Linked DNA regions of Homo sapiens: region 2 is linked to region 1. Evidence: fine-mapped expression QTL. A gene starts in region 1. The other region holds a variant in brackets. All regions are shown on one strand. Distances are between the middles of the regions.

Region 1 (5,355 bases):
TTAGTTTCGTCATCTGTAAAATGGGCGGCTGCTGGGAGCAGATCAGAGCGCCTGGCATGACCCTGGCACTGTGGTTTCTGGGAGGAGCCGGGGGCTGAAGGCAGCACATGAGGTGCCCGCCTGGGCTGCCAGGGACAAACAGGAAGCAGATGAAAATAACTCGGCAGGAAGCAGGGCTGTCAGCGGCCGCGTGGAGGAGAAAACGGAACTGCCGGCCTGCAGGCCGCTGGGTCCCAGCACCTCCGCCGCCTGATGACCCCATCCTGCCCCTCGCCATGCCTCCTGAATCTCTCTCCACCCAGACCTCAGCCAACCCCCAGTTTGCTTCATTCCAAGACACAGATCTGCCCCCATCTGTCCTGTGCTCTAACACCTTCTATGGCTCCCCATTGCCCTTCTGCCTGGCGTTGTCATGCCTTCATCCTACACCAGCGGCACCCCACACCTTGGCCCCCAAATGCATTCTCTGTTTCCGTGTTTCTGAGCCTGTGCATGGGACATTTCCTCTGCCTTTCCCTCCTAATTGCCATCAGATCCTTTAAAAAAAATAAAGTGGGCACCCTCTTGAGCCAGTGTACGCTCAGGGACTCCCCCACCAAACTCCTACACATCCCTCAGAGCCTTAGCTGTCATGGCCTCTTCCACACAGCCCTCCCTGCCATCTGAGCCTCCCTCCCTTCTGAGCCTCCCCAAGTCCCTCCCTCCATCCTCCCTTGGGTCTGGCTCTGTCTTCCACCCAGGCCTCGGTGTCCCCGTGGCTCTCACCGTCACGCAACACACACTCCTTAAGTTTCTCAAGGCCCTCAGCGAAGCGGGCCACGTCCGCCAGCAGATGGGAGATGTCCTCGACGACGTCCGGGCCGGCACCCTCGGTGGGCAGCTCGCCCGGGCTGGCGGCTGTCAGTGGGCTCCGGTGGCTCCGGCCCAGTGTCCAGGAGGCAGCACCCGACAGGGGGAAGCCAGCCGCGCTGGCGTGGCGGCTCAGGCTGGTGGGCCGCTTGAGGGTCCCTGTGGCCTTGACGCCGGAGGACCCAGCGGGCGGCTCCAGGCTTGGTCCGGGGAACACCGCGTCAGCCCCATCCTTCCTGGGCAGCTCCTTGGGCAGGTCCGAGGGGAGCTCGTTAAAGGGATTTTCCGGCCTGGACACGGCCTCAGTTTCCCCAGAAATGAAGTGGGGCTGTGGAGGGCCACCATCACCCTGACCCCACAGGGGTCAAAGGCCAGAGGTCACAGGGCCGAGATTTGGTAGTGTACCCCCCCACCTGTTACCCAACATCCTCTTCCCTAGAGCTTTCACAAACAACGGTCCTTGCCCAAACCACAGCCGGGGCGGGGCCTGCGGGGAGGCGCGGGAGGGGGGTCCCCACTTCCTGGTGGGGGTGGGGAGGGTCCTCAGCCCTTCAAGCCCCCCTCAGGCTCCTACAACGCAGGTGCTTTAAGTGAACACACTTCTGACTCTGTCTGTCCCCTAAAGGTCCATGGAACCCCAGAGCCTATGGGCAGCCCCAGGCCTTGTAGACATCCCGGACCCCCAAGCTCTGTAGACCCCCCCCCCAGCTTTGTAGACACCCCAGGCCTGGGGACACTCCCCAACCTCTGAACCTGGTGGATCCCATTAGAGGATCTGCTGCCCGGTCAACCTTCAGCCCAATGGCCAGGCCACAGCCCTCCCATCTCAACGGCCCCTAGAGCCCCCAGATTGCCTAAGCCCCCAACCTGCAGCGGCCCAAACACAACATCGTCCCAACCCGGCACCCTCCCTTCCTGCTCCCTGGGCCCCGCGGCCAGCCCTGGATGGAGTGGAGGGAGGCGGCCACCACTCCCAGGGTCCCTACCGTGAGCTGAATGCCGGGGTCCCGGCCTCTCTGCTGTGGCCCCTGCCGTCCCGCCCGGTAGGGGCTGTAGCTGGCACGAGCCCCCAGCCGCCGCCCCAGCATGAGCCCCGAGCACAGGGCGGGTCCCTGTCCCCCTGCGGCCCGGCGTCAGCTCCGGGTCTCACCCGGGCTCCACTCACCCCCGAGGGCTGCGGGCTGGGGCTTCCCGCGCGGTTCTTTTTCGAGATGGAAGGGGTTTTCATGAGCTCTCGTTTCTTCCTGGAGAACATGATGGGGCCCCGGCCGGGAGCCCGAGGGGGCGGGCTGGGGGTCTCAGCGCTGCAGCTCCCGGCGCTGGCCGCTTCGGGACCACATTGTCGCCGGCCACCCCCTCCCCAGCTGTCAGGCCCACGTGACAGGCCCGGCCGTCACTGGCGGGCCCTCCCCCCAACAGGAAAAGGCTTCGGGGAGGCGGCGACGCGGCCTCGCCCCCGACCCTTCCCGGCCTCAGCCTGCGGCTCTGCGGAGTGGGCGCGAAGGTGAGGTCGCAGGCCCCGCCCCCAGCCCCGGGCCGCGCCCCCCGCTTCCGCCTTCGGGAGCTCGGAGCCGCGCCGCTCGCGGGGTGGGACCGGGAGCCCCTGCCTGACGCTGGCGGGCACGGGGCGGCCGACTGCAGGGCGCTGACTCTCACTCCCGGACGCGAGTGGGCGTGCACAGACACGTGCACGATGACACGCAGAGACCCGGACCTCCACACGCGCTCAGACGCCACCAAGCCCCTGGAGCCTCGCCCTCAGACCCCAGACACACGCACAGGCCGAAGCTGCGCCCCTGCAGCCCCCTTTTCCCTGAAGGCAAGCCCGCTCCACCGCCTCTCCTGCAGACCCTAGGGTGTGGCCGGGCCCCAGCAGGGCCGGGCAGAGTAGGGTCCCCCCCATCACCCGCCCTGCAGCCCCGTGAAGTGGGTCAGGTCGAGGACAGGTGGGGAAACTGAGGCCCAGAACCGAAACCCTGGGGGCAAAGACGTCCAGGAAGTCAGAACAATCCAGGTTACCGGGCCCTGTCCGTCTGGGTCCCCACGTCCGTCTGGGTCCCCACGTCCACCTGGTCCTGGGCTGCCTGCACAGGGGTCCCCAAAGTGTGGTGTGGACCCCACCATCGGCAGAATATGCTGAGGACACCTGGTTACCTCTCAGCAGCCCTGTGGGCCATATCATGTTGCCCCAGACCTGCCCTTAGCTAAGGTCCCCAGCCCCGCCTCCCAAGCTGCATTCCAGTGACTCTGGACCACCGGACGTGCTGGGCAGCAGGACGCAGGCACCCGTTGCTGATAACAGCCTGAGGCGGCATTGGCCAAGAGCTGGGGCATCTGCAGGCATACAGATCCCAGCCTCCTACCTTCCCCCAACCCCCACCCCGCAGTGTGAACTCTCTCCCCCCTCCCCAAGTCTCCCTGCTGTCCCCTTCCAGAACCCCACCCCCAATCCCAAAACCCCAACCTCTTTCCTTTCCCAAACCCCATTCCCACCTACCTCGGGTGGGAGGGGCAGATCTCTGGGGCACAGGACATGAAGGCCACAGCCCCTTGCTCCAAGTCTGGCTCTCCAGGCCCAGGTCCAAGTGCAAACCCAGCCCAGCAGACCCTTGAGAACTCTTTGCCCCCGACTCATGGCGCTGAGGGCTGGGGTCAGAGGGTGAGGGTCAGCTGGATGTCGGATGGGCTTCTGGCCCGGCCCTGGCCTGTGCTCCGGGACACCGGGCTCCTGTAAGCTTCCCAGGACATTCCTGAGTCCTGACCTCATCCCCACTTTATGGCCAGGCACTTACAGGTACCGCCCTTAGGCGCCAGCCCCACATAGGCACGCAGGGACGTGGGGACAGGGACGGTGTGACCAGGCCCTTATGAGGCCCGCACTCACATCCCCAACTCCTGGGCTGGCCACAGAGGCATTTACAGCTGGGATCCGGTCAGCTGTAGGCACGCTCACACCTGTGTCCTATGAATCGCCACTTGGCCCGTATGTGCACACTCAGCTTGCAAGGGGCCAGCCATATCCAGACGCATGTGCAGGCAGCTGTGTGGACATGTGTGCAGCCTGGCTCAAGGACACACATGCACACGGTTTCACCACCACGGCTTCTCTCCAGCCTTCTCTTTATTTTCTCCAGGGCACCAGCCCCTCTGCCAGCCTGAGTCCAGGGCTCCTAGGCACTCTACCTTGCCCTTGCCATTCCCAGGGCCTCCCCGCGGCCCCGCAGGGGAGGGAGGCTCAGAGCACAGTCTCGGCAGTGCTAGGGTCATCGAGGAACTGGCTGACGCGTTTGGGGTGCTGCAGGCCTGGCGCGGGGTCCACTCCCACTCCTGCCTCCTTCTGCTCTTCGGTGTCCTCGTCCTTCCCCTGGTCCTTGGAGAAGTACAAGAATACCTAGCGGTGGGCAGCCCAGAGGGGACAAGAGGGACGGTCAGCCCACGGGCCTGGCCCCCAGCCTGCCTCCCCCAGCCCGACCCCGGCGCCGTGATCACCTCCTCCAGCATCGTCTGGCTCACGGAAAAGTCCTCCACGCCGTGCTCTGCGCCGTGCACCGCCAGCTCTCCAAAGACGCGCGCCAGGGCGCAGCGCCCTCCCGGCGGCAGCTGGAAGCGCAGGCGGCCTCCATGTGCCTCGCGCAGCTCCGCCCCAGGGAACTCGGCCGCCACGAAGGCCGCTGCCGGCTGGGACCTTGCGGCGGGCACCCGCAGGGTCAGTGTGTGACCCGCCGCGAATCTGCAGTGAGTGGGGCCAGGGCTACCGGATCGGGCCTTTCCCAGGTCCCACCTCAGCTCACCCTCCAGCCCCTAATACTCTCTGGCCCCGCCCCATACTTGTACTACCCTAGCGATCAAGTGGTCCTCCCGTCTCAGTCCCCCGCCACCCCCCGCCCGCGTAGCTGAGACCACAGGCACACACCACCATGTCCAGCTAATTTTTAAATTTTTTATAGAGATGGGGTCTCCCTAGGTTGCCCAGGTTGCTCTCGAAGCTATCACCCCACTTGACTCCTTTTTCGGACACTCCTCTTTCGCCCTTGCACTCTACCCCCGCCCACACAATAAATACCCCCGCCCCACTTTCCTATGGCCCCGCCCACTAACCAGGCCCTCCCCTAACTCCACCCATCAATCCACCCTCACCTCTCCAGGCTGCACCTACTCCAACGCACACCTGATTGTGTCTTCTAAATCCACCCAGAGCCCCCGGCTCACGCCTCCTGGTCCTGCGCCCCCAGCACACCCCAGCCTGTCTCGCCCCCTCAGTCACCCCTGCAGGACAATCTAAAGCCTTGGCCATCTCTCCAGTTGGAGCCAAACTTTCCTCACCCGGCTCTACGTCTGGCCTCTCCCCTGAGCCTACCTACGTGCCCACCCTCACCCCACACCTGCCTGGAGGCCGCGCCGGCTCACCTGCCCTTGAGATGTTGCGGGCTGCCCAGGCAGCGGAACCGCCCATTCACCATGATGGCCAGGCGCGAGCAGAGCGCTTCACACTCCTCCATGCTGTCG
Region 2 (5,355 bases), 21 kb before region 1:
GGGCCTGCAGCAGCCGAACCCGGGAGCTTCCTAGAAATGCAGATCCCGGCCGGGCGCGGTGGCTCACACATGTAATCCCAGCACTTTGGGAGGCCGAGGCGGGCGGATCACGAGGTCAGGAGTTCCAGACCATCCTGGCTAACACGGTGAAACCCCGTCTCTACTAAAAATACAAAAAAATTAGCCAGGCGTGGTGGCGAGCGCCTGTAGTCCCAGCTACTCGGGGAGCCGAGATTGTGCCACTGCACTCCAGCCTGGGAGACAGAGCAAGACTCCATCTCAAAAAAAAAAAAAAAAAAAAAAATGCAGATCCCGGGCCCACCCCAGCCTGTAGAATCGGGACTGCTGGGAGTGTGGAGGGACCCTAGTGCTGGGACAGGAGGAGTCCCAGCAGGAGGTGGCTGTGCCCAGCCCGTCTGCCTCAGAAGCCCCAGGAGCTGTGACTCCGTCCCCCGCCTGTGGAGCCAGGGTGGGGTGGGTGGGCTCCCTGAGTGCCGGGGATCGGGGTGGGGTTCAGGGCTCTTGTCCGTCTGAAGGCGCAGGGGCTGTGGTGGCACCTGGGAGCCACGTGGGGTCTCACCAGCCCTTGGTGATGCCTGGTGGCTTCCTCTCTCGGCAGCTAGTCCCTGAGCACGTCGTCATGACCAAGGAGGAGGTGACAGAGCTGCTGGCCCGATAGTATCCTTTCCAGCCCCACCGGCCCCGCCCCTCCCTGTCCCTCGAGACTTCCGCGTTCCCCCCCCACACACACCCCTGCCCCCCCAACGGCCCTGTCTGGCATTTTCCTGACGGTGCTTCGCAGTAAGCTCCGAGAGAACCAGCTGCCCAGGATCCAGGCGGGGGACCCTGTGGCGCGCTACTTTGGGATAAAGCGTGGGCAGGTGAGCCCTGTGGGGAGAAGGGGCCCTGGGGCTGCTCTGAGCTGACCACTCGGAGAAGGGGGCTTCTGTCCCTCCCCGACAGCCCCTCCCCCTTGATCCAGGGCCTGGAGGGGACCTCGAGACCACACCCCCAATATCCCCCTCTTAAAGCCAGGGCCACTGGGCCCAGAGAAGAGCGTGACCCAGGTTCCCAGGGAGCGGGTCCCACAGCCCAGGGTCAGCCATCTCGGACCCCTGCCGGCCATCCCCAGCCCGTGTGCTGCCCGCCTGCTGTCTGGTGACTGCAGTGAGACCCCTCAAGCATTCGCAGCCCCTGCTCTCTGTCTCTGCAGGTGGTGAAGATCATCCGGCCCAGTGAGACGGCTGGCAGGTACATCACCTACCGGCTGGTGCAGTAGCTACCGCCTGACAGGTGAGACGGCCGAGGGACAGGCACTGAGGTGGGGTCAGAGGCAGGGGTGTCGTCCCCTCCGTCGGTGTGCAGGGCTGTTCTTGCTTTGTCCGGCAGCAAGACCCTCCTAGCACCAGCCCAGCTGGGCCACCAGGCGCTCCCAGGACACCCCCAGACCCCCAGACCCCACCCGACCGTAGGCTGCAGCTCTTGGGGCTGTGCGCCTGGACGGGAGAGTCCTGGTACGCGGGGCGTGCGTCTCTCCGCCGCTGACCCACCTTAGAAGCAGGAGACGTTCACCTGCAGGGCAGTTGTGCGGCGGGACTTTCCAGAAGAGGGTTTAGAAACCTGCCCAGAGACCCCAGAGCTGAGAGAGGAGGCACAGCTTCAGGCCAACCCTTCCCTGAGTGGGCACCTTGGGAGGGACTGGCCGGAGTCTCAGGAGCGGGACAGCCTCTGCCCATGGCGAGAGCCTCCCAGCTTCCCCTGGACTCTGGTCATGGCGAGCTGCTGTCCTGCAGGCCGCCCCACTTCACACTCAGCCCAGGGGTGGGGCTTGGCCTGGTCTGACGCTGGCACGGTTCCTTTGAGGTCAGAGCTACTGCCCACGCCTGTGTGACCGCTGGGCACAAGGGAGCCGTCCGGCCTCTGCACTGCGGCCTGGGCCGCCTCCTGCCAGGCCTCCCGCACCCCGTCACGTTCGGTGGGCGTTGTGCTGTCCTGGGCATACTGGATCTGCCCCTGTCGTGTGACCACTCTCCCCCTTTCCTAGCCCCTAGAGGCGGACACACAGCGACCCCCATCCCTGCAGGACAAACGCCCCTGCCCTGCCAGAATCCGGCCCCCACAGCTCTCACGGCTGCTGCTCCTCTGGACTCCCCAAGGCAGGTGGCCTCCACCCACGTTCTCCCGTCCTGGGGTGAGGCTTCCTGTGGCCCAGCCCGCCCCATTCACCTGTGGATTTGTGCGAGATGCAGCCTCAGAAGGAACAAGGCCCCCAGAGGGAGGTCACCTGGGGGCAGCTGGTGCCGGGTCTTCACCCAGACCACGCTGGGTCCCCTCTGTTGGGGGTTTGGGGTCCGGGTCTCCCACCAGCCACTGCTTCCTCCTGGGCCCTCGGCCTTCCACCCCTCGTCTTCCCTCCCTCGGGGGCCCTGATGCGTGGCGGCCCCCGCCCGGCCTCGGCTCTTTACTCCATTCACAGCC[A/G]TGCACGCGCTCAAGCCACCAGGGTGCGAGATGCCAGCTCTGGAGTTCTCGGTTGTTGTAGGAGGTTGGGTGTTTTCAAATGGTAAAGATGTTTTGAGCAAATAAATTTGCTTGATACAGAAACCAGGCCGACTAACAAGGTTTCCAGCAGGTGGCCTTGCCTCACCCCAAGCACACGAGGTCAGCCTGGCAGGTGTGCCCTCCTCGCGCTGGCTTCAGGGGTCAGTGTCTCCCCAGGCCCTCGCCCTGCCCTCCCACTTCGTGCTCCTGGGTAAGGCGTGAGCGTGTCTGTCTCTTCCCTTCCCGTGAGGGTGTGGAGTTGTTCTCTGGCTTGTGCAGCTGTGGTTTGCGGCCAGTTCCTCTTACAGACGTTTGGGATCTGGCTCTACTTCCCCGTTTGCTTACTGTCTGATTTCAGAAGGCCTCGCCTGCCCAAGTTTAACCTAGCCACGTGGTTCTCTCACAGTAGCTTTATTAAGATGTAATTCACCCTCGGGCGGTCGGTGGTCTGTAACGCGCCCACTGTTCTGTGCAGCAGGGTCCCCAGATCCCCAGGCCGCGGACTGTGTGTGTGATGGGGACAGTGCTTCCCCTTCTCTCCAAATGTACTTTTTTCAAAATTGTCTTGGCCAAAGCAAGCCAGACCCAAAGGGACAAACACTGATGTCACTCCTAGGAGGTCACTAGAGTCGTCAGAGACTGGAAGTAGGATGGGGGTTCCCGGGACTGGGGAGTTGGGTGGGGATGGGGGTTCCCAGGGCTGGGGAGGAGGGAGGGGACAGAGTGTGTCATGTGCACAGTTTTAGTTTGGGAAGATGAGAAAATTCTGGAGGTGGCCGGGCGCGGTGGCTCACGCCTGTAATCCCAGCACTTTGGGAGGCCGAGGTGGGCGGATCACCTGAGGTCGGGAGTTCGAGACCAGCCTGACCAACATGGCAAAATCCCATCACTGCAAAAAATACAAAAATTACCTGGGCGTGGTGGTGCATGCCTGTAATCCCAGCTACTTGGGAGCTAAGGCAGGAGAATCACTTGAACCCAGGAAGTGGAGGATCGCTTGAGCTCAGGAGTTAAAAGACCAGCCCGGGCAACACAGAGAAACCCCCCACCTCTACAAAAAACTTTAAGATTACCTGGGCACAGTGGCTCACACCTGTAATCCCAACACTTTGGGAGGCTGAGGCGGGAGGATCATTTGAGCCCAGGAGGCCGAGGCTGCAGTGAGCTACGATTGTGCTCCTGTACTCCAGCCTGGGCCACAGGGTCACACCCTGTCTCAAAAAAAAAAAAAAATGCAGTTCCACAGGCGCATGGGCCACGTTTCCAGTGCTTGGTGGCCATGTGGGGCTGACGTGCGAAACCTTAGAGCCGGGGGATACGTCCGTCATCGAGAACGTTTTCCTGGACTGCCCTGGGCTGCAGGTGGACGTGACGAGGTCATTCGATGCCTGACCGTCTGCACAGCCTGTGGTGAAGACCACCCGGGCTCCCACCTCGCGGGGCCCCGTGGCGGGGGGTTCCCTTCCTCACACATCCCTCCCCTAGGGGGAGGCCCAGGGCCACGCCACGGGGCTCTCTCTGTCCCCTCCCTGGCCCCTTCTTCTAAGCTTGCAGCTGCCACAGAAAATCTTCTAAGCTTGCAGCTGCCACAGAAAACACCCGATTAAAAACTTTTTATTTCAGCAAAATAAACGTGCCTGTGAAAGAACCACACGGTGGCTTCCGAGAGACCCCACTGTGTACCTGAGCCCCAGGTGGCCACACCTGGTGTTCTGGAAAAGGGAGTCCAGGGCCAGTATTCAGGCCCTGCTGTACTGCACCCTGGAAACTGCACCAAACCCCAGCTCCGCCCCCATCCACGGCTCCCAGAATGGTTTCTGGAGTCCCTGCAACAGACCTGTGAGGAGAGGGCAGGGCAGGGCCTGCCTCCTGCGTCCCCGTGATGACCTGGGGGATGCACTGGGCAGGGACAGCTTCCTCCATCCACACAGCCCTGTGGGCACCAACAAGGCCACTGTGACTTCACACGACAGCAGTGTTCCCCAGCTCAGCTGAGCCGGGGTGCAGGGGACAGCACAGGGCACAGTCCTGTGCCGCAAGGCCCTCGTGCTCCTGGAAGCCTCTGGGAGGAGGCGCCCGCTGGTGGGACGTCGAAGTCCAGGCGCTCTCGGCAGCGACCCCAGGACGGCGCACCTAAGCTATGCCGTGGTGCAGGGGACGTGCTGGAGGGACAGGAGCAGGCAAGAGAGAAGCCACCTGTGGTCCCAGCCCCACCCCAGCTCACACGAATTCCGGCTGCCTTTCCCTGCAGGAGCCCAGTGTCATCCGCCCGCCACGGAGCCTCATGGGGGGCAGTGGGGCCTGCAGCACGTTGTTGGACTGGTTGGTGTTGAATCCTGAGAGCTGCTGGGCCGGGCCGTCCTCGTCCCCGTCCCCGTCCTCCCGGGCTGTGGCCTCCAGCTGCTCCTCACTGCCGCTGTGGCTGCCAGAAGCCACCTCTAGGCTGGCCTCGCTCTGCTGCTGCTCCAGGAAGCTGAGGTGGCCCAGGGCACTGGCCTCCGATGAGGACAGCAGCTCGGAGGCCTCCTCTAGGTCCGAGTCCGAATCGTTGGACACAACTCGGGATTCTAAGAAAGGGAGACAGATGGCGGGGGGAGACAGACAGGAGAGATGGAGGAGAGACAAGGGGAGGGACAGACAGGAGAGATGGGGAGAGACAGGAGAGGGGGGAGAGAGATGGAGAGACAGGAGAGATGGGGAGAGACAGGAGAGATGGAGGAGAGACAAGGGGAGGGACAGACAGATGGAGAGACATGGCGGGGAGGAGGAGAGAGAGACAAGGGGAGAAACGGAAGGAGAGAGGTGTTGATAGGGTCT

The links. PIP is the estimated chance that this variant, and not a neighbour inherited with it, causes the effect. A credible set is the group of variants that fine-mapping cannot tell apart.
Region 2: its variant is the best candidate, but not a certain one, in a credible set for the expression of ARHGAP45 in fibroblasts (GTEx, PIP 0.68).

The regions. Positions count from the first base shown.
Region 1 is chr19:1,064,155-1,069,509 of GRCh38, reverse strand. It overlaps ARHGAP45 (Rho GTPase activating protein 45), which reads right to left and starts at 2,343. Exons shown (of 23, transcript NM_012292.5): 1 at 2,015-2,343; 2 at 766-1,096. The coding sequence starts at 2,104. It overlaps ABCA7 (ATP binding cassette subfamily A member 7), which reads right to left. Exons shown (of 47, transcript NM_019112.4): 45 at 5,257-5,349; 46 at 4,339-4,579; 47 at 3,938-4,240. The coding sequence ends at 4,085. RefSeq lists enhancers at 44-203, 2,394-2,900 and silencers at 594-693, 1,224-1,463, 1,774-2,533, 4,374-4,423.
Region 2 is chr19:1,085,410-1,090,764 of GRCh38, reverse strand. It overlaps ARHGAP45 (Rho GTPase activating protein 45), which reads right to left. Exons shown (of 23, transcript NM_012292.5): 23 at 4,137-5,105. The coding sequence ends at 4,759. It overlaps POLR2E (RNA polymerase II, I and III subunit E), which reads left to right. Exons shown (of 8, transcript NM_002695.5): 5 at 620-678; 6 at 803-881; 7 at 1,214-1,293; 8 at 2,045-4,191. The coding sequence ends at 1,279. Among named protein-coding and RNA genes, the nearest start is that of POLR2E, 7.3 kb to the left of the region's middle. RefSeq lists enhancers at 1,710-1,809, 4,376-4,875. The variant A/G (reference allele first, on the strand shown) is at 2,479.